Regions from separate parts of the Homo sapiens genome. Here region 2 is linked to region 1. Evidence: fine-mapped expression QTL. A gene starts in region 1. The other region holds a variant in brackets. All regions are shown on one strand. Distances are from middle to middle. Region 1 holds the start of PIGW (phosphatidylinositol glycan anchor biosynthesis class W). Region 2 overlaps GGNBP2 (gametogenetin binding protein 2).

Region 1 (10,747 bases):
ATTAAGCATTGGCCCAGTGTGGTGGCTCACACCTGTAATCCCAGCACTTTGGGAGGCCAAGGTGGGTGTTATCACTTGAGTTCAGGAGTTTGAGACCAGCCTGGCCAATATGGCAAAACCCCATCTCTACTAAAAATATAAAAATTAGCTGGGCATGGTGGTACATGCCTACAGTGCCAGCTACTCAGGAGGCTGAGGCAGGAGAATTGCTTGAACCCGGGAGGTGGAGGTTGCAGTGAGCTGAGATGGCACCACTACACTCCAGCCTGGGTAACAGAGCAAGACTCTGTCTCAAAAAAAAAAATAATTAAGCATCACTGCTGTTTAGATGACTGAAACTATTTTATAATAAAATATGGTTAACACTGTTGCCAAAAGCACAATTTCTTTACAATTAATATTCCTCATTAAATATTGCCCAAATACTTATATATCCTACTCCTGCTGATCACCAAAATTGTACAGTCTTATCTTGCAAATATAGTACATATACAATTAAACAGTTGGAAAACATATAGAGATTGACCACAAATAAGGCCCACAAGGTACTGCTGTGTAATGTATCTACCATCAGGTTGATCAGGCCAGTTGTTATATTTGACAGCAAGAAAAATATTAACTGTTTTCTGTTTAGAGCTGTGATTAAACAAAGACTGGGTTCCATTCTTTCGGCTTCAGGGACTAGAGATTCTGAATGCTTTTTATTTGTAACAGGTGACTGGATAAGTTTCCAAGAACATGGTACTAGAGCTCCTTTAATTAGAAATTTGGCAAAACTCAAAATTATATCACCCAGTAATAAACTACTAAGAAGGATCAGGCTAGAAGCAACTATCCAAATACAAAAGGCTAAATTTGCCATTCTTCGAGATACTGCTTCTACATTTACTTGAACTACGTAAAGAGATATGAAGAGGCTAATAGCTGCCAGTAAAAGAAAACAGGCTACTTTTATCAAGTCTTTGATATGTGATCGGTTCTTATGCATATATAACCCTGTTTGCACACCAGCCATGTGTATTGCCACATACCCCAGGGTAGAGATTATTCCTTCGCGGTTGGCATTTAATAGACCAACCCGTGTGCCACTACCATCAGTGCCATATAATATTAACCTCTTCAGTGAGGTAAAGTCAAGGGCTAGCTGGTATAATACAGTAATGCCGAGGGCAATAATCCAGGACTTATTTAGGGGAAAAATAATCAACAGCAGTGGTGTTATCAATTTCACAACTATTATGGTAAAGAAAAAGTTCCAGTGAACTCCATACTCTGTTAAATGTTCCTGATAGCCTATTGATTTTATAATGGCTAATCGTCCGATTCCTAGGAAGACTAATGGCCAAACAGAGTACAATGAGTTTGTAAAGTAATGCAATTTGGACCCTTCCATATATTTTCTCCTCCTGACCTCTAGACAAACCATTGCAGACCCAAAAACAAAGCCACCTACTCCAAAATCCATTGCTCCTGTCCCATAGAGCTCAGTTTTGGCAAATCTTCTGGGAAAAAGTGGGAAGTCCACAGCCAAAATAGCAATAGCAGTAAACGCACTGGTAATTACACGGAAACAGGAGATGGCTGGATTGTATTCTGATTCTAGACTGATGTTCAAGAATTTTTCAAGGATTTTTAGGAAAGGCAGTCTGGCATAGCAGGTCCTCCTTCGGTATATTTGATACAACAGCCCTGCCCCAAAGATAATTACACCGAGAAGCTCAAGGAGGATAAATGAAGCCCAAATGGTCAAAGTGGCTACCATGGGAACTATTAGGACAACAAAGTCAGTGAGGAATCTAGTTTTCCAGGTAGGTGAAAAAGAACACAAGTACTGTGAGAAAATGATCAGGAACCCTCTGCACAGGATACAGAATGCAGGAAAGCACAATCCCTGGGTGATTTCCAGCACGGTGGTTCCATTGAGGTTACTGACAAAAGCTTCCTTCATCTGCTTTTCAGACATTTTTCTTCCTGTGAAAACAAGAGCAAAGGAATGGATTTGTGAAAAGCAGCATTCTTGTGTAATTAGCATACCTGGCTTAATTTTACTCTTATTACTAGATTTCAGAGCAGAACTTTGGGCCCTAATGAGTTCACCTAGGATTTGTGATTCCCCTTCCAAGGATTGTGGGAAGAAGCTTAACACTAATGTGTTCAGATAGAAATGTCATACTAATAATATTAAATTATTGGTTACAAAGCTTCAGCTATTCCCTGTACAAGACAGACTCACAAAGAAAGTGAATTTGGGGCCAGGCGTGGTGGCTCACACCTGTAATCCTAGCACTTCGGGAGGCCGAGGTGGGAGGATCACCTGAGGTCAGGAGTTCGAGACCAGCCTGGTCAACATGGTGAAAGCCCGTCTCTACTAAAAATACAAAAATTAGCCAGGCGTGATGGCACCCGCCTGTAATCCCAGCTACTTTAGAGGCTGAGGCAGGAGAATCGGTTGAACCGGGGAAGCAGAGGTTGGAGTGAGCCATTGCACTCCAGCCTGGGCCACAGAGTGAGACTCCATCTCAAAAAAAAAAAAAAAAAAAGGAAAAGAAAAAGCAAAGGAAAAGAGAGCGAATTTGGGATATAAACTCTGAGAATGGCATCATAGGCAGATGGGAATTTCTATTATGGAGCACAGTACGTATCATGAAGATTCTTTGATGCAAATTGAATAGGATTTACTAATGACCTTAAAGCAAATTCAAACGCTAGGGGCCAAGTACATTTTGAAGTTGGGGGCCTTGGTTCCAGTTCAGAGCCTCTCCAAACCTACTGCCTTGGTACAAAACGTGACCCCTGCAGTGATTTCTGGATCCCCAGGCTGCTCCTTTCCTCATTTACAGACAGCTATGTTTTCAGGTTAGGATGGAAGTAGGTACGGTGGGTGCATTAAGAATGGATGTATAGCACATACTAGTGTTAGTTGCTCTTTTATTAAGGGTTGTAAAACACCTCTGAATGCCACACATCATTGTCTGAAAAACGGCATACTGGAAGAACACATTTGTTGGTTAAACATGAACCTAGAGTTTCTAAATGTACCATGAGCTGAATAAGTAAGTGAATGCATGCGTGCATTATGGCCTGTCTGGAACCTGTGACAATATCTCACAGTAACCAACTCAAATCAGTTGACCATTAAAAATAAAAGTCCTAGCCGAGAGAAGTGGTTCATGCCTGCAATCCTAGCGCTTTGGGAGGAGAGAGGATCGCTTAAGGCCAGGAGTGAAAAAAAAAAAAAGAAAAATTAAAAATTAGCTGAGCGTGGTGGTGCGCGCCTGTAATGCCAGGCTGAGGCGGGAGGATCGCTTGAGCCCAGAGGTGGAAGGCAGCAGTGAGCCGAGATCGCGCCACTGCACTCCTACCTGGGCGACAGAGCGAGACTCCGTCTCTTAAAAAATAAACATAAAAATAAAAAGTCTTTTTCCTAACAGACGCCCGACCTGGCCGCGCCCTACCCGTATACCTCACGTACTCCAAATGGTGCCGGCGCCCCCAGCAGACGGTCTACGTGGGAAGGGCAGCCGGACTGCCGCTGCACCCGCCAAACCACGCGGGAACCAGCCGCTTCCGCCTCCCGCGCGGCACTTCCGGCCGACGCAGGCAGCTGGCACTTCCGGGCCGGCCGATTCCGCGCGTCTCCGCCCATCATGGCGCTCGTGCCAGTGTCCCGTGGGCTACCCACTCCTGTCATGTCCTTTGGGCTGGTGCAGGCCAGATCTTCTAGGGCCGTAGCCCTGAGAGGAGCGCCTGGAGAGGAAACGGCGCGCCATGCACCTCACACGGCCCCTCAGACCTCACGGCGAGGCCCTATCAGGGTAATGGTGTCCGCCGGCCTCGCACAACACTCCGCCGCACTCGCACAAGACTCCGCCGCGGCGACCTCTACTGAAAGACCCCCAGTCCTGGTGTCGCCCGAAGGCCCAGGAAACCGTGCTTCCGCGCTTCTCCCCCAGAACGTGGGAAGCTGCCGCTTTACCCTCATTTTACCCCAGGGTCGCAAAACATCTCACCGTAGTTGAAGCCAGCAAGCCGGACCAGGCGTCCCGGCCAAGCCACGTGCGCGCCCCGCGCCGCGAGTGCTCGCCCCGCCCCTAGGGAGGAGCCGGCCGACCCCCGGCCACTTAGCAGTGCCGCAGCCGACGGGGTGCGGTTCGGCGCTCCCAGGTTCCTTTCCTCACTGCACGCTCTTGCCCCTCCTCTTTTCTCTCCTGCCCGTGTTCTTCCCGCCGCCTGACCTGGCCCGCCCGCCTTTCCAGTCTGGCCGGGCGGGGGCCTGAAGCACGGCGGCTCGGGCCGTGGGACCGGTGAGTGTCAACCCGAACCTATATCTGAAGCCCTTCAGACGCGGAAGGGGCTTGGGAGGCCAGTTTGCCCCGCAGCGGTGAGGAAGAAGTAGGCGTCTCCACCTCCCCTTCCAAAGCGCCGTTTCCCTCCTTTTTGCCTTTTCCTTTTGACCCTCTTGTGTCTCACGAGGGGGTAGCCCAGCTCTTGGCTCTTGCTTGAAACAAGTCTTTCTTGATCACCCTCCACCTTTCCACCTGGCCGGCAGGGGGCGGCCTGGGGGGAGAGGGTCCTTGCTCCACTCTTCGCCCAGCTGAGGACCCCGGGAGGGGGCGGCTGGTCCCGGGAGGTGTCAGGGCAGCTGCGCCCTTGGCTGGGGTCACGTCCACCTTCCTGGGAAGGACATACTCTCCCCGTGCCAGGTGCTTCCGGAACGGCATCCCAGCCCTGGGTTTGCGGCACGACGCCCGGACCTTGAGTCCCCGGTTCCCGCCGGGAACCTGGGGGCGGAGCCAGCTGGACTGATGAGATCCTTACCCAGCGCTTCTCAGCGTCTGCCCTCCCACTGTCCTCCATGCCTAGAAAGAAACAGTCTGAGAAGGAGGGACTGGTGATCAGGTTGCCACTTGCCTTGATTCGGTGTTCCATTTACTCATTACCGTCTCCTTTCTGCCCACAGTGTTCACACCCTTTCCAGAAATTCTTGGCTGGTAACCGCGAAACCGACTGGAGCAGGAGCTGGGAGAACTGGAGAAAACTGCTCTAATCTCACTTGACTCCAGCTAGGAGCTGATGCTGCATCGTAATAACATTTGCAGAGCGCTTTCACAGGTATTAGCCCCTTTAACGCTTCATTTAGCCCCGTGAGATCTGGATATTATCACTCCGTTTTGTAAACGAGGAAACAGAGTGAGGCTTAGTTCTTGGGTTCTGTGCCAGGGGCCTTGGGTTTTGGATTCAAACCCCAAACCTGTTGTGCTGCCCCTCTGGACCTATTGCTTGAGATGAGTTCCCAGTTGAAAGAGCTTTGTTCTCTGGAGCCCTCTGCATGGCTGTCCCTTGGATGGGGTACAGTCAGTGTCCAGGGTCAGGATCTTTTAGGGCTGTAGCACCACACCTTAAGTGGTCCAGCACGGTCCTGATACCTGTTTCCGCCTCAATTGTCCTTTTTCCAGCTTCTATGGAAGTCCCTATCCCTGGGTTCTTTAAAGACTTGATGTATTCAGAGCCTCAAGAAAGTCTCCACCAGGGTTAATCCATTGCAGGCACGCTTCACCCTCAGCCTCATCTCTCCTTGCTAGGGGTGGTGCCAAGGCCTAGAAAATTCCAAGTCTGAGGGTCACTTAACCATTCTTCAAAGATTGGCTTAGGCCCAGCCTCACAACACCCCACCTCCCAGATGGATTCATCTCCCTGAAATCCTCACCTTCTTGAAGTTGACACTGGACCGTTCACCTGATTAGCGCTCCCAAATGGATCATCAACCCTTAGTCGTAGTGCTAACAGTGTTTATCCTCTGAGTGAATACTCAGATTCGTACTTTGTGTGGTGCTGTCAAACCATGACCTCATTGACCTTCACAACCACTCCTTATGAGGCAGATTTAACTGTCCCCATTTTCAAGGTAAGAAATTGAGGTAGGTGATGTGCCTGACCCAGGATCACACACCCAGTGAGTGATTGAACTGTGATATAAACTACCACACCACACCTTTCCTGGAGCAGCGAGAGATGACTCCAGCCTCTCCTCCTCACCAACGACTGAAATAGGATATTTCTGTCTAATGTAGAGGATAGGGCACAAGGCTTCTCTGTCTCCCCAGTGTCTTACTCCTCCTCCATGGCACACTGACCCAGAGGGTTTGCAGCCCCACCCCAACCCAAACCCTAACCCTGTAATAAAACTGGCCCAGGGAGCCTCTGAGGCTCTCATAAAAGTTTCCCTGTCTCCTAATTGGCAAGGGAAAGGACAGGCCCACTCTCCGCCCAGGCCTGCCTTGCATCTCATTTTGGTTGCTTCTGCTAGGTGGGAAGGAGTGAGTGAGTCACTCCAGAAAAGCCCTCACCTGTGTGTGGTCCTTGTCTTCTCTCTCATGCCACAGGCGCTGGAGTGACTTGTCTGAGATTCCTCCAGAACTGAGCCCTTTGTTGGAACCATACCCCAGCCCATGGTCCCATGACTAGGTGGATAGTACTCCTTGTACCTCCTGCAACCCAGAACCCTGGCTGACCACTTTGAAGGAGGATGCTCCAGCAGGTAAAACCTCAACCTTAGATAACCCAGGCCCTCAAGCACCTGCAGCATCTGTTGCTAGCCCTAACCTGGAAGGAAGGGAAAGCCCCCTTAAAGGTCTCTTTTCTCTCCTCAAATTGTCTCTCCAGTGCCTTTTACTCATCATCAAGAAACTCTTCCTGATACCTAATTTGAATCTGTCTTGTGGTTTTTAGCTCCTTTCTTTGGGATAGGTAAGGTGGGATGGGTAAGGGAATCCTTAGGGCACTTTGGGGATTCTGCAGAGGAAGTCCTGAGAGATGTCCCTGCCACCTGAATTGTTGAGGCATAGTAGAAGCCTGGGGCTTCCAAGAGGATGTGTTCCTTGAAGCTAAGCCTTAAAGAACTAGAAAGAATTAGCCACTTGGAGAAGGAAAATAAGCACTCCAGGCAAAGAGGTCAGCCTGTGCAGAAATGTAGGAGACTATGAGGAAATATAGAAGGATTCTAATGAGTGGATCATGGGTTACATGATCCCCATGTCTCTGCCTCTCTGAAAAGGCTACTGTTGCCCCAGGCCTGTAGGATTCCAAATCACCTTTTACAGCGGAGCTCTCTCTCATACCCATATCATCCTTCATGTGTAACTCTTGGTCCTGAGAGAGTGCCAGTACTTATTTGCTGACTTTTTATTTTACCAAGTGTTGCCAGGCACTGGGCTGAGGCAGATGTTGAGGTTGGTGCTTGCCCTCAAGGAGCTCAGAGTCTAGTGGAGTCTTGGGTAGGTAAGTGCCTGACATCAGCAAGGTAGCAGCCAGGTGTGGGGCCTGCCAGCATCAAGGGAGCCATAGTAGACACTGCAGCTTGACCTTCCAGCCATATGGCTCCTGGAACAGGTTTGAAGGTAAGAAGTGGGCAAAACAGTTGACTGCTCTGGGCTTTTTTCTTGCTTATTTTTAAACTTTTTTTTTCTCTTATTAAAAAAAAGGTATATCAATACAATGGAATAAAGCAAGTTACACAAAAATATAATACTTTTCAATGTTTTTAAAGTATGTAGGGGAAAAAACCTATGATATTCTCTAAAATATTGGTTATTTCTGGGTAGTATGATTATGGATTTTTATGCTCCTTTTGCTTATCTCTATTTTCCAATTTTTTTTTTTTTTTTTTTTTTGAGATGGAGTCTCACCCTGTCATCCAGGCTGGAGTGTAGTGGCTTGATCTTGGCTCACTGCAATCTCTGCCTCCCAGGTTCATGCTATTCTCCTGCCTCAGCCTCCCGAGTAGTTGGGACTACTGGTGCTGGCCACCACGCCTGGCTAATTTTTTGTATTTTTTAGTAGAGATGGGGTTTCACCGTGTTAGCCAGGATGGTCTCGATCTCCTGACCTCGTGATCCACCCACCTCGGCCTCCCAAAGTGCTGGGACTACAGGCGTGAGCCACCGCGCCCAGCCTCCAAATTTTTTTTAATAATTTTTGTTTATTTATTTTTATTTTAGAGATGGAGTCTCACTCTGTAGACAAGGCTGGTCTCAAACTCCTGACCTCAAGTGATCCGTCTGCCTCAGCCTCCCAAAGTGCTTTTACAGGGGTGAGCCACCGCACCCAGCCGTGAGACCCTGTCTCTTAAATAAATAAATAAATAAGGCCAGGCACGGTGGCTCATGCCTGTAATCCCAATACTTTGGGAGGTCGAGGCGGGCAGATCACCTGAGGCCAGGAGTTCAAGACCAGTCTGGCCAACATGGCAAAACCCCATTTCTACTAAAAATACAAAAACTAGCCAGGTATGGTGGTGCATGCCTGTGATCCCAGTTACTTGGGTGGCTGAGGCATGAGAATCACTTGAACCTGGGAGACAGTGGTTGCAGTGAGCCGAGATTGTGCCACTGCACTCCAGCCTGGGCGATAGAGCGAGACTCTGTGTCAAAAAAAAAAAAAAATACAAAAGCCACTTTTACGCGTGCCTGTAGTCCCAGCTACACAGGAGGCTGAGGCAGGAGAATGGCGTGAACCCGGGAGGCGGAGCTTGCAGTGAGTCGAGATCGCGCCACTGCACTCCAGCCTGGGCGACAGAGCGAAACTCCGTCTCAAAAAAAAAAAAAAAAAAAAAAAGCCACTTTTAGAAGAAGAATAGCTAACCCCTTTTGGCAGATTCCAGATGGCCTTTCTAAATCCTTCGTGTGTTTTTGTGCTTGTGAGTATCTGTGAGGTAGGTACCATTATCCCATTTTACAGAAAAGAACTTTAAATAATTATTTAGAGACAGGGTCTCACTTTGTTGCCCAGTGCAGTGATATCCCCATAGCTCACTGTAGCCTCGACCTCCTGGGCTGAAGCAACCCTCCTGCCTCAGCCTCTAGAATAGCTGGGGTTACAGGCACATGCCATAATGCCCAGCTAATTTTTAAATATTTTTTATAGAGACAGGGTCACCTTGGCCTCCCTAAGTGCTGGGATTACAGGCTTAAGCCACTATGGCCAGCTGGAAATTTTTCTATTTTTATTTTTTACTTTAGAGACAAGGTCTTGCTCTGTTGGCCAGGCTAGAGTGCAGCGGTACAATCATAACTCATTGCAGCCTCGAACTTTTAGGCCCAAGTGGTTCTTCTACCTAAGCCTCCCAAGTAGCTGGGATTACAGGGACCAGATGAGGAGAATTGAGGCAGAAAGAGATTAAGAAATTAACATAAGAGTATATAACTGTAAGAGATAGAGTCAGGATTCAGAGCCAGACAACTAACTTTCAAGTCCAGGTACTTGATCACTATACTCAGATGCCTCTCTGGTTGGATCAGAACTCTTCATAAATTGTGTCTGTGTTTGTGAATGGTTTGTGTAGTGGTGGTTTTTTTTTCCCCTTCATAAAAGGAGAGGGATATGCATAGATATAGCTGTGCTCTGACCTCCGCAGTTACTCTGGAGGCCAAGAGCCTACCTTGTGCATTATAGTGGGCCCAAAGTTCAGAGAACAGGCAACAGTTTTGGAAGAAATGCATTACTGGGCCTCTTGGAGGAAATTTGCCACCATGGCTTATTTCTATGAGAGATTTGAAATTTTAGGCTCACCATTCTCATTGGAAATTCACCTGTTGTATCACAGACCTCTTCCTTCAAAAGCACATTTCAGCAAGATACCTGTCTTCAACCCCCACTCTGTCTTTCCTGCATCCCCAAAGGAGACAGTAGGAGAAATGGGACCACAGGAGGAAGTGGAGGGATGATACATCAAGAATGGGCAAAGGAAGATAGGGTGACTCATGCCTCTAGTCCCAATTACTCAGGAAGCTGAGGCAGAAGGATCACTTGAGCTCAGGAGTTGGAGGCTGCAGTGAGATATGATCATGCCACTGCACTGCAGCCTGGGTAGCAGAGCAAGACTCCATCTCTTAAAAAAGAAAGGAAAAAAAAAAGATAGGCAAGGGAGGAGAAAGGACCTGTTCCCTTGGTGCTTATTCTTGACCTCAGACAGCCGTCTGAGCCAGGCTTTCTCTCAAGCAGACTCGGGCCAAGGGAACCAATTCATTAGCCAGCCTAAATTTAAGCCACAAAAGGCAGGTGATGAAGACATGGGGCTACCTCTCTCAGAAGGTACAGCTGTTTTACATCAAAAGCTGAACTGTCTCTTCCCAAAAAGGCCTAACCCATGGTTCTTTTCCTTTGCAACATTCCTATAGCCTTATTTCTAATAAGGCTAGTAGCCTGGAAGTGCTACTTGCAAGTGGCCGGAGCTCTTGGCAGAAGAGATAGCATTTGTTGAGTACATGCTGTATGCCGGGCACTGACTAAATGCTTTGTATATCTCTTCTTTTCTTCCCAATAACCTTGTCAGTTGAGTTTATTTTCCTTTATTTACGAATAAACAAACTGTGACTCAAAGAGGGTAACTTACCCAGGCTCACAGGGCTACTAAGAGGCAGAACTGAAATTTGAACCCAACCAGACTATGATACCAGAGTCTCCTTCTACTATACAGGTTCCCACCCTTCTGTAGCTGCCAGCTGTTTTGAGTACCAGCTGTCGCGGCCTTCATGTTTTTTGGTTTTTTTTTTTTTTGAGACAGAGTCTTGCTCTGTCGCCCAGGCTGGAGTGCAGTAGCACAATGTTGGCTCACTGCAAGCTCCGCCTCCCGGGTTCACGCCATTCTCCTGCCTCAGCCTTCCGAGTAGCTGGGACTACAGGTGCCCGCCACCATGCCTGGCTAATTTTTTGAATTTTTTTTAGTAGAGACGGGGTTTCACCGTGTTAA
Region 2 (10,747 bases), 44 kb before region 1:
GCACACGCCTGTAGCCCCAGCTACTTGGGTGGCTGAGGCAGGAGAATTGCTTGAACCCGAGAGGCGGAGGTTGCAGTGAGCCGAGATCATGCCACTGCACTCCAGCCTGGCAACAGAGCGAGACTCTGTCTCAAAAAAAAAAGGAATCTAGCTTATTCCTTTTAAGATGAACATTAAAGATATTTGCAAAAAATATATATAGTATAATACCATTCTTCTCACTCTCATTTTATTTAGAAAATAGTTATTTTTGAAAAAATATTTAGTTAACATTATTTTTGAAGGAGTAGCTTAAAATTTATCATTTAATTTCTAATACAGTAAATATTGGTAAGTATAACCCACATAAACAAAAGCTCATTGAGTACCTTAATTTTTAAGAATGTAAAGGGATCCTAAGACCAAAAACTTGAGAACTGCTCTAGGTCATGCACAGAGGTGGCTTTCTATATTTTGACTTTGATCTAATAATACATTAAAGTCAGGTAAAGAGATAACTACTCAACATTGTCTTAATAAAACATAGACATGACATTAAAATTCTGGCTTATACAGACTACAGTAGGAAAAAAGCTGATATAAAAACTGCAGGAGCTCACATCTGGAAAAGCATAGTAAAAATGCCCAAATCTAGCAAAAAGCCATACAGTTAACCCTCCATATCTGTGGGTGCTGCATCCATAAATTCAACCAAGAATCGAAAATATTTGGGGGGGAAAAAATCAACCTGCATCTGTACTGAACATGTACAGACTTTTTTCTTGTCCTTATTTTCTAAACAATACAGTATAACAACTATTTAAACAGTTTTTATTTATTTTGAGAGAGTTTCACTCTGTCGCCCAGGCTGGACTGCAGTGGAGCGATCTTGGCTCACTGCAACCTTTGCCTCCTGGGTTCAAGAAATTCTCATGCCTCAGCCTCCCAAGTAGCTGGGATTACAGGCGTGAGCCACCATGCCCAGCCTTACATAGCTTTTACATTGCATTAGGTATTATAATTTAGAGATAATTTAAGAATACAAGAGGCCAGGCACGGTGGTTCATGCCTGTAATTGTAGCATTTTGGGAGGCTGAGGTGGGAGAATTGCTTGAGCCCACAAGCTGGAGACCAGCCTGAACAACATGGTAAAACGCCATCTCTACAATAAATACAAAAAATTAGCTGGGCCTGGTGGGGTAAGCCTGTAGTTCCAGCCACTTGGGAAGCTGAGGTGGGAAGATGACATGAGCCTGGGAGATGAACGCTGCAGTGAGCCATGATTGTGCCACTGCACTCCAGTCCGGGTGACAGAGTGAGACCCTGTCTCAGAAATAAAAGTATAAGGAGGATGTGCATAGACTATATGCAAATATTACACCATTTTACATCAGGGACTTGCACATCTGCAGATTTTGGTATCTACAGGAAGTCCTGGAATCAAACCCCACAGATACCAAGGGACGACTGTACTTTTTATTTTTATTAAAAAAATAAAATAAAATAAATAGAGATAGAGATCTCACTATCTTGCCCAGGCTGGTCCCAAACTCCTAGGCTCAAGTGATACCTCCACCCTGGGCCTCCCAAAGTGCTGGGATCACAGGCGTGAGCCACCACACCTGGCCTGTACTTCTATCTACAAGCAATACATACACACTTAAGAGTTGATATTAAGAAATATTACCTTCTCTTGGCTTACTTCCTTTTCATCTGCTGTTTGTAAGGGAGTAGGAATATCACACACACACTTATTTTTTCGTCTATTCTTCCGTTTTTGGCGTTTCTTTTCTTGCTTGAGTTCTCTTACTCGTTCCTCTTCTGAAAATTCCTCACAAAGTTGTTCCAATCTGCTAATACCCTGTACTTTTTCCACGGTCATCTATTATAAAAATAAGGTTGAGGGTGAATATTGGTCAGAACTTCTTTTCTTTTTTTTTTGAGACGGAATCTTGCTCTGTCGCCCAGACTGGAGTGCAGTGGCATGATCTCAGCTCACTGCAAGCTCCACCTCCTGGGTTCACGCCATTCTCCTGCCTCAGCCTCCTAAGTAGCTGGGACTACAGGTGCCCGCCACCACGCCCGGCTAATTTTTTGTATTTTTTAGTAGAGACGGGGTTTCACCGTGTTAGCCAGGATGGTCTCGATCTCCTGACCTCGTGATCCACCCGCCTCAGCCTCCCGAAGTGCTGGGATTACAGGCGTGAGCCACCGTGCCCGGTCCCTTTGTTTTCTGTGGTAATATACACACTCCTATTCCAAACCAGCAAGATTCTAGTTTTAAATTTCAGAATTTTTTTTTTTTTTGAGACAGAGTCTTGCTCCATCGCCCAGGCTGGAGTACAGTGGCACCATCTCAGTTCACTGCAACCTCTACCACCCAGGTTCAAGCGATTCTCCTGCCTCAGCCTCTCAAGTAGCTGAGACCACAGGCATGCGCCACCACACTGGCTGATTTTTGTATATTTAGTAGAGACAGGGTTTCGCCATCATGGCCAGGTTGGTCTCGAACTCCTGGCCTCAAGTGATCCGCCCACCTTGGCCTCCCAAAGTGCTGGGATTACAGGCATGAGACACCATATCTGGCCTAAATTTCAGAATTTTAACACAACAAAAGTAAACATACCATTTACTGACATAATGAAAAAACTATTTAACCTGATTAGATGATCTAGTCTCTGAAGGTACAAAAATACAAAGAGAAAACGAGTAAGGGCTGGGCGCCGTGGCTCATGCCTGTAATCCCAGCACTTTGGGAGGCCAAGGCAGGCAGCGGATCACGAGGTCAGGAGATTGAGACCATCCTAACTAACATGGTGAAACCCTGTCTCTACTAAAAATACACAAAAAATTAGCCGAGCGTGGTGGCGGGCGCCTGCAGTCCCAGCTACTCGGGAGGCTGAGCCAGGAGAATGGTGTGAACCCAGGAGGTGGAGCTTGCAGTGAGCCGAGATCATGCCACTGCACTCCAGCCTGGGTAACAGAGCGAGGCTCCGTCTCAAAAAAAAAAAAAGAAAAGAAAAGAAAAGAAAGAAAGAAAAATAGTCCTTATACCATGGCATTCACACAGCATTTACTTCATACTACTGGACATTAGCAGGCAAAATGAAACTCACTGAAGGTTTTAACATTTCCTGCTTAATCCTTGGGGGCATTTAACTTTTCACTAGTTATGTGTGTTTTTTTTGTTTTGTTTTTGTTTTTGTTTTTGTTTTGAGACGGAGTTTTGTTCTTGTTGCCCAGGCTGGAGTGCAGTGACGTGATCTTGGCTCACTGCAACCTCCACCTCCCAGGTTGAAGCAACTCTCCTGTCTCAGCCTCCCAAGTAGCTGGATTACAGGTGCCCGCCACCACGCCCAGCTAATTTTTGTATTTTTAGTAGAGACGGGGTTTCATCATATTGGTCAGGCTGGTCTCAAACTCCTGACCTCAGGTGATCCGCCTGCCTCGTCCTCCCAAAGTGCTGGGATTACAGGCGTAAGCCACCATGCCCAGCCTCACTAGTTATGTTTCATAGCAGCATCTTATTAAACATCTTCAGTTTTCTACTCTGAGAAAGTCTAAAAACCAAAGCTAGCAAAGTTAACAGGATTAAAAACATTTTTTTAAATCCATCAACTTCTTCTAAATCCCAGTTCCCTAGACCACCCCCACTCCAACCCAAAGCCATGTAACAATATCCAGCCAAATCCATGAAGCTCTATCAGTGATGGACAGTCCTTTTAGGCACTGGTGGCTTACATTAAGATTCAGTCCAATAACGTGACTAAGCAATCTGAGATACTGGAACAGCCCACTGTTCTTACCTCAAAACTCTTGCGTAAAGCATCAACACCAAGATAGAAAAGCATCTGCCATGTCTGCTCTTCTGCCCGTAGCTTCTGCCAGATTCGATGCAGTCTTTCATAAAGATGAATTCCCAAGCAGGTCAGAACTTCTTCTTGAGCTATATCTATTGTCTTTGCATGCCTTTCTCTTCGCCTATAAAAGGGAATAATCACACACTAATACCTTTAACTGAAACAGTAAAAGATGGATAACACAGCTGCAAGTTCAGGTTTTAAACACAATGTGCTTACCTAGTAACAAGACAGTTATACATTTACACTCAACGTATATGTTGCTATACAAGCATGCATGTCCACAACCAATGAGAAATACACATGCAAGTAGAATTTAGTCCTCGTATTGCTAAAAATAAAGTAATTCAGGAACTGGCTCTAAAAAGATGGGTTTTAGGGCACAAAGCAATCACATAGAAGTGTCCAGCTCATAGTAGACACAACAGTTCCTTTTACTTTCCAATTATAGCAAAACATTTTTTCCTTCTTTAGGTTTTTTGTTTTGAGGAGGAATTGAGAAAGGCAATGCCAAAGTGATTCATCATGGGCAAGAGTCCTCCACCAGGCCAGTCTTTACAAGTGTTCACAGAACTTTGGCGATAAAAAAGCCCTTTGTATTCTAGCAGAAAGTAGGCACTCAAATGAGGGTTGATACCCTAAATACAAAAGGAAATGCATTTGATTTATTCTATTAACATCATCATCTGATTTTATTTTTACAACAAAGCCAGAGATACTACTTTAGGTTTCTGTGTAGTAATAATAATATAATATACACAGTTCGTGAATTACATTCAATAAGGCATTTCTTAATCCCCTACTGCAAAGATCTGACTTATGCAAAAACCATTATTGTGAATAAAATTTACACATGATAATGCATGGATAGAGGGAGAAAAATCCCTTCTAATCATTTTCAAATGAAAATGATAGTCTGTAACAATGAAAGCCAAAAAAGCCTGCCTCCCTTCAAGCAAGAACTAGCAGAGGACTGAACCAAACACCAGAGAACAGTTTTTCCCTATTTTCAGTCAATTAAGAAATGCATACTTTAAAGAGAAGCAAAATCTTTACAGGCATACTTTAATTTATACATATATCATATGTACTGAGGCAGAAGGTGATGAAAATAAACTTTCAGTAATAAAATGAAGCAAAGCGCTAGATAGCCCATTCTAGCAAATTACATACTCATACCCTCCTGCGAACTCTGGCTCAGCACGACCCAAAAGATGTGCAATGAAGTCTGTTTCACAGCAAACATGTATGTGTCGTTCATGTGGACAGCACCGCAAGCCTTCATAAAGTGCAGCACAGTAGCCCTTTTCTTTGCTGCAGTCAAGTTCACCAATAAGGATATTGTATGCTCGGAGGACTTTATTTTTGCAATCAGTGCAAAACCTGTTGAAAAGAAAAACCTTAAAATTAAGAAATGGCTGTGCAATTATTTCTTGTGGCATATAACAGTGTACTAGATGATGGCACTCTCTCCCATCTACAGCATCCAAAATAAGCCTCCATACACACATTTAAAACATACGCACATAAGGTAAATACAAATTTAGGGATTGCATAAATACAGATAGACCTTCATTGGCAAATTATTTTTAAACTAGAGAAACACATAGCCTAAAAGAATGAGGCAGATACATACCTATTATTTCATAAAATGCATGCCCAGAAAAGTATTAGTTGCCAAGAACTAGCATATCTCCACTTCAAAAGCTATTTGCGCAGGTCAGAAATAAAACAATAGAGGCAACAAACCAATGACTCTTGATTGGTTTGTTCTCTCTCCTTCCAGTCTCTGAAAATAGATGGTCTCTTCAGCAAGGAGACCTTGACTCCAATTTCTATTACAACATTTTAATATTTCACTAGCTAAGCATTTGAGGATAGGGGTAGGGGTTGGGGTGGGGAGAAGAATGGGAAAGTGGTGTGTGCATTTTTTAATTTTCTGATTATTTCCAAAATGCCAAATTCTTTCTTCCCAAAAATGCCTATTTCTCAATAACAAACATAATATAGACAAAATATACATGGAAACTGGTTTAAACTTAAGTGTATAAAATGTGGCAAAAGAATAGAAGAGTTTGTGAATGTAGAGAAGGAAGAAAATTTCTTTTAGAAACCAAATATCAATCAATCAGAAAGAAATAATAGAGCCTGGTTTCTTTATCTTTGAATTCCTGGAACAAGAAGAACTTGGTCAGGTGGAAAAGCCAGGCTCACAATAAGAGTAAATGGCTAAGAAGATTAGTTAAGTGAAACAAGGAAATTTTGATCTCTTTGATTTAAATTCATCTCCCAGATGAGCTCATCTATG[C/A]GTATGGCTTCAACTAACATGTCTATAAAGATGACTTGTGACTCTACAGCTCCATTCAAATCTCTGCTATTGCCTGAGGGCCAGACCCATATCGAAAAGTGACAAGACATGGCAGATGTCCAATAGGCAACACCTTAAATTCACTGTCCAAGGGTAATGCTGTTCTATTCCTATGTGCCTTCTCAATCCCTGTTAATAAGAACACTGCCATTCACAGCCATTCAGAGTCACCCAGGCTGGAAATCTGAGTTAATTCCAACTTCTCCCTGGGTCTTCCTATTGAGTAGAGCCAACTAGTATTCATTCTTTCTTGTTTCTCCTGTAGGTCCCTATTTTCAATTCCCTCTGGCATGGTTTAAGTTGCCTATGCTATATATATATATATACACATATATATACATATATATACATATACATATATACATATACACACACACACACACACACACACACACACACACATATATATATATTTTTTTTTTTTTTTTTTTTTTTTTTTTTTTTGAGACAGAGTCTCTCTCTGTTGCCCAGGCTGGAGTGCAGTGGCGCCATCGAGGCTCACTGTAACCTCTGCCTCCTGGGTTCAAGCGATTCTCCTGCCTCAGTCTCCCGAGTCGCTGGGATTACAGGCGCCCACCACTACACCCAGCAAATTTTTTGTATTTTTTAGTAGAGACAGGGTTTCGCCAAGTTGGCCAGGCTGGTCTTGAACTCTTGAACTCAGAGGATCTGTCCGCCTAAACTAAGCTAGAGTGCAGCGGGACAATCATGGCTCACTGCAACCACCGCCCCCCAGGTTCAAGCAATTCTCGTACCTCAGACTCCTGAGTAGGAGGGATTGCATGCGCCCACCACCACACTGGGCTGATTTTTGTGTTTTTAGTGCAGATGGGGTTTCACCATGTTGGCCAGGCTGGTCTTGAACTTCTGACCTCAAAGTGATCCCTCCACCTCAGCCTCCCAAAGTGTTGGGATTACAAGCATCAGCCACCACGCCCGGCCTAGACTTCTTACTATAGTATTTACCCTTCTACTGCCATATCTTTGTTTCATGCACACACGTTTTGCTGGACCAATAGTAGATAACAATGTTTCTTAAAATGAAGATATGGGCTGGGCGCGGTGGCTCACGTCTGTAATCCCAGCCCTTTGGGAGGCAAAGGCGGGTGGATCATCTGAGCTCAGGAGTTCGAGATCAGCCTGGCCAACATGGTGAAACCCCGTCTCTACTAAAAATACAAATATTAGCCAGATGTGGTGGCATACACCTGTAATCCCAGCTACTCAGGAGGCTGAGGCAGGAGAATTGCTTGAACCCGGGAGGCAGAGGTTGCAGTGAGCCAAGATCGCACCACTGCACTCCAGCCTGCATAAGAAGAGCGAAACTCCATCTCAAAAAAAAAAAAAAATATATATATATATATATATATATATATATATATATGTTACATTAGAGGCTCTAAGCCCACTTGGTAAACAGAGGCAACAATGCTGACAAATAATGTTAAATTATGTTATTTCACTAAAGTTTTAAATATGGGCAAAAATATACAAAAATTAACACAAAATGGATTAAAAACTAAATGTTAACATCTGAAAACCATAAAACTAGAAGAAAACATAGGGGAAACTCTTCATGACACTGGACTAAGTGATGATTTCCTGGCTATGACACCAAAAGCACACATGCACAACAAAAACAAAAATAGATGCTTCTCTGAGAAAACACCAAATGGCAGATGATGCTGGTGGCAGCCGGTGGTGGGGATCGCCTGGGATGGGGAAATGCAGTGGCTTCCGTGGAGGTTTCGGCAGTGGCATCCGGGGCCGGGGCTGGGGCTGAGGCCGCGGCTGAGGCCGCAGAGCTCATGGAGGCAAGGCCGAGGATAAAGAGTGGATGCCTATCACCAAGCTGGGCCGCCTGGTCAAGCACATGAAGATCAAGTCCCTGGAGGAGATGTATGTCTTCTCCCTGCCCATGAAGGAATCTGAGATCACTAACTTTTTCCTGGGGGCCTCTCTCAAGGACGAGGTTTTGAAGATTATGCCAGTGCAGAAGCAGACCCGTGCCGGCCAGCGCACCAGGTTCAAGATGTTTGTTGCCATCGTGGACTACAATGGCCACATCGGTCTGGGTGTTAAGTGCTCCAAGGAGGTGGCCACTGCCATCCACGGGGCCATCATCCTGGCCAAGCTCTCTATTGTCCCTGTGCACAGAGGCTACTGGGGGAACAAGATCAGCAAGCCCCACACCATCCCTTGCAAGCCGACAGGCCACCACGGCTCTGTGCTGGTGCGCCTCATCCCTACGCCCAGAGGCACTGGCATCGTCTCAGTGCCTGTACCCAAGAAGCTGCTTATGATGGCTGGTATTGATGACTGCTACACCTTAGCCAGGGGCTACACTGCCGCCCTGGGTAACTATACCAAGGACACCTTTGATGCCATCTCTAAGACCTACAGCTACCTGACCCCCGACCTCTGGAAGGAGACTGTATTCATCAAGTCTTCCTGTCAGGAATTCACTGACCATCTCGTCAAGACCCACACCAGAGTCTCCATGCAGAGGACCCAGGCTCCAGCTGTGGCTACAACACAGGGTTTTTATACAAGAAAAATAAAGTGAATTAAGCCTGAAAAAAAAAAAAAAGACTACAGTCGTGTCACTTAACAATGGGACACATTCTGAGAAATGCATTGTTAGCTATTTTGTTGCTGTGCGAACATCAGAGTGTACTTACACAAACCTAGGTAGTATACATATTTTTATTTATATTTTTTTCACATGGAAAACCAAATGTCCCAGCACCATCACTGAATATTAATCATTTCCTCTACTTGATCTGCAACGCAGTATGCTCCATTATAATCTTACGGGCCCACTGTCATATATGTGGTCTATCACTGACCAAAATGTCATCACATAGCACATGACTATGCATTAAACTTAAAAACGTTGGCACAGCAAAGATGATCAACAGAGTAAAAAGGCAACCCAAAGAATGGGAAAAAATATTTGCAAACCATATATTGAATAAGGGGTTAATAGCCAGAATATAAAGAACCACTAGAACTCAATCACAAAAAAAATAGCTTAATTTAAAAATGGGCAAAGCCGTGATCATGCCACTGCACTCCAGCCTGGGCAACAAAGAAGATCCTGTCAAAAAAATAAAATAACTTAAAAGTAAATAAATAAATGGGCAAAGCATGAATCGACATTTCTCCAAAGATTATATACAAATGGCCAGCAAACATATGAAAAGATGCTCAACATCACTAATCATCAGGAAAATGCACATCAAAAACACAATGAGATATCACCTTAAACCAACTAGAATGACCACTATCAAAACAACAACAACAACAAATAACAAGTGTTACTGAGGATGTGAAGAAATTGGAACCCTTATGCACTGCTGGCAGGAATATAAAACGGTACAGCTGCTATGGAAACCGGTACGGAAGTTCTTCAAAATAAAACTACCATACGATCCAGGAATCCCACTTCTAGGTATATATCCAAAAGAACTGATAGCAAGGATCTTGAAGAGATATTTGCACACTCATGTTCACTGCAGCATTTATTGACAACAGGCGAAATGTGAGAGCAACCTTCAATGTCCATCAATGTATGAATGGACAAAGAAATGTGAATAGCCAGGTGCGGTAATCCCAGCACTTTGGGAGACCGAGGCGAATGGATCACTTGAGGTCTGGAGTTCAAGACCAGCCTGACCAACAAGGTGAAACCCTGTCTCTACTAAAAACACAAAAATTAGCCAGGTGTGGTGGTGTGTGCCTGTAATCCCAGCTACTCAGGAGGCTGAGGCAGGAGAATCACTTGAACTCGGGAGGCGGAGGTTGCAGTGAACCGAGATCAAGCCACTGCACCCCTGCCTGGGCAACAGAGCGAGACTGTCTCAAAAAAAAAGAAAAAAGAAAAGTGAATAATATCACATATACTATGACACTGCCCATTTTTAAATAATGTCACAGTATTGTGACATTATTCAGCTTTTAGAGGGGAATCCTGTCATATGCTACAACATAGATGAATCTTAGACATTATCTAAGTATTGTCTTAGATAATGGCTAAGTAAAATAAGCCAATCACAAAAATTCAAGTGCTACATTATCCCATTTATATGAGCTATCTAAAATAATTAAACTCAGAAACAGAAAGAAGAATTGTGGTTGCTAGGGGGTGAGGGGAGAAAAAAGGTGTTGTTCAATGCGTATAGTTTCAGTTGAGATGAAAAAGTTCTAGAGATCTGTTGTACAACAATGTGCATATAGTTAACAAAATTATAATGTACACTTAAAAACTGTTTGAAAGGTAAATTTATGTTTCACGGTTTTTTGAGACAGGGTCTCACTCTGTTGCCCAGGCTGGAGTGCAGTGGCATACTCTTGTCTCACTGTAGCCTCAACCTCCCTAGTAGGCTCAGGTGACCCTCCCCGCCTCATCCACCTGAGTACCTGGGACTACAGGTGTGTGCCACCACGCATGGCTAATATTTGTATTCTTTGGAGAGACAGGGTTTGGCCATGTTGCCCAGGCTAGTCTTGAACTCCTGGGCTCAAACAATCCGCCCAC

What was found.
Region 2: its variant is fine-mapped to the expression of PIGW in whole blood (INTERVAL, PIP 0.97).

The regions. Positions count from the first base shown.
Region 1 is chr17:36,528,318-36,539,064 of GRCh38, reverse strand. It overlaps PIGW (phosphatidylinositol glycan anchor biosynthesis class W), which reads right to left and starts at 4,078. Exons shown (of 2, transcript NM_001346754.2): 1 at 3,473-4,078; 2 at 1-1,971. The coding sequence starts at 1,963. The coding sequence ends at 449. MYO19 (myosin XIX) reads left to right here and starts at 4,197. Exons shown (of 26, transcript NM_001163735.2): 1 at 4,197-4,304; 2 at 4,961-5,112; 3 at 6,384-6,538. The coding sequence starts at 6,527. RefSeq lists an enhancer at 4,831-5,506.
Region 2 is chr17:36,572,458-36,583,204 of GRCh38, reverse strand. GGNBP2 (gametogenetin binding protein 2) reads right to left here. Exons shown (of 14, transcript NM_024835.5): 7 at 5,019-5,222; 8 at 3,786-3,960; 9 at 1,667-1,861. It also overlaps the pseudogene RPS2P50. Among named protein-coding and RNA genes, the nearest start is that of DHRS11, 14 kb to the left of the region's middle. The variant C/A (reference allele first, on the strand shown) is at 6,148.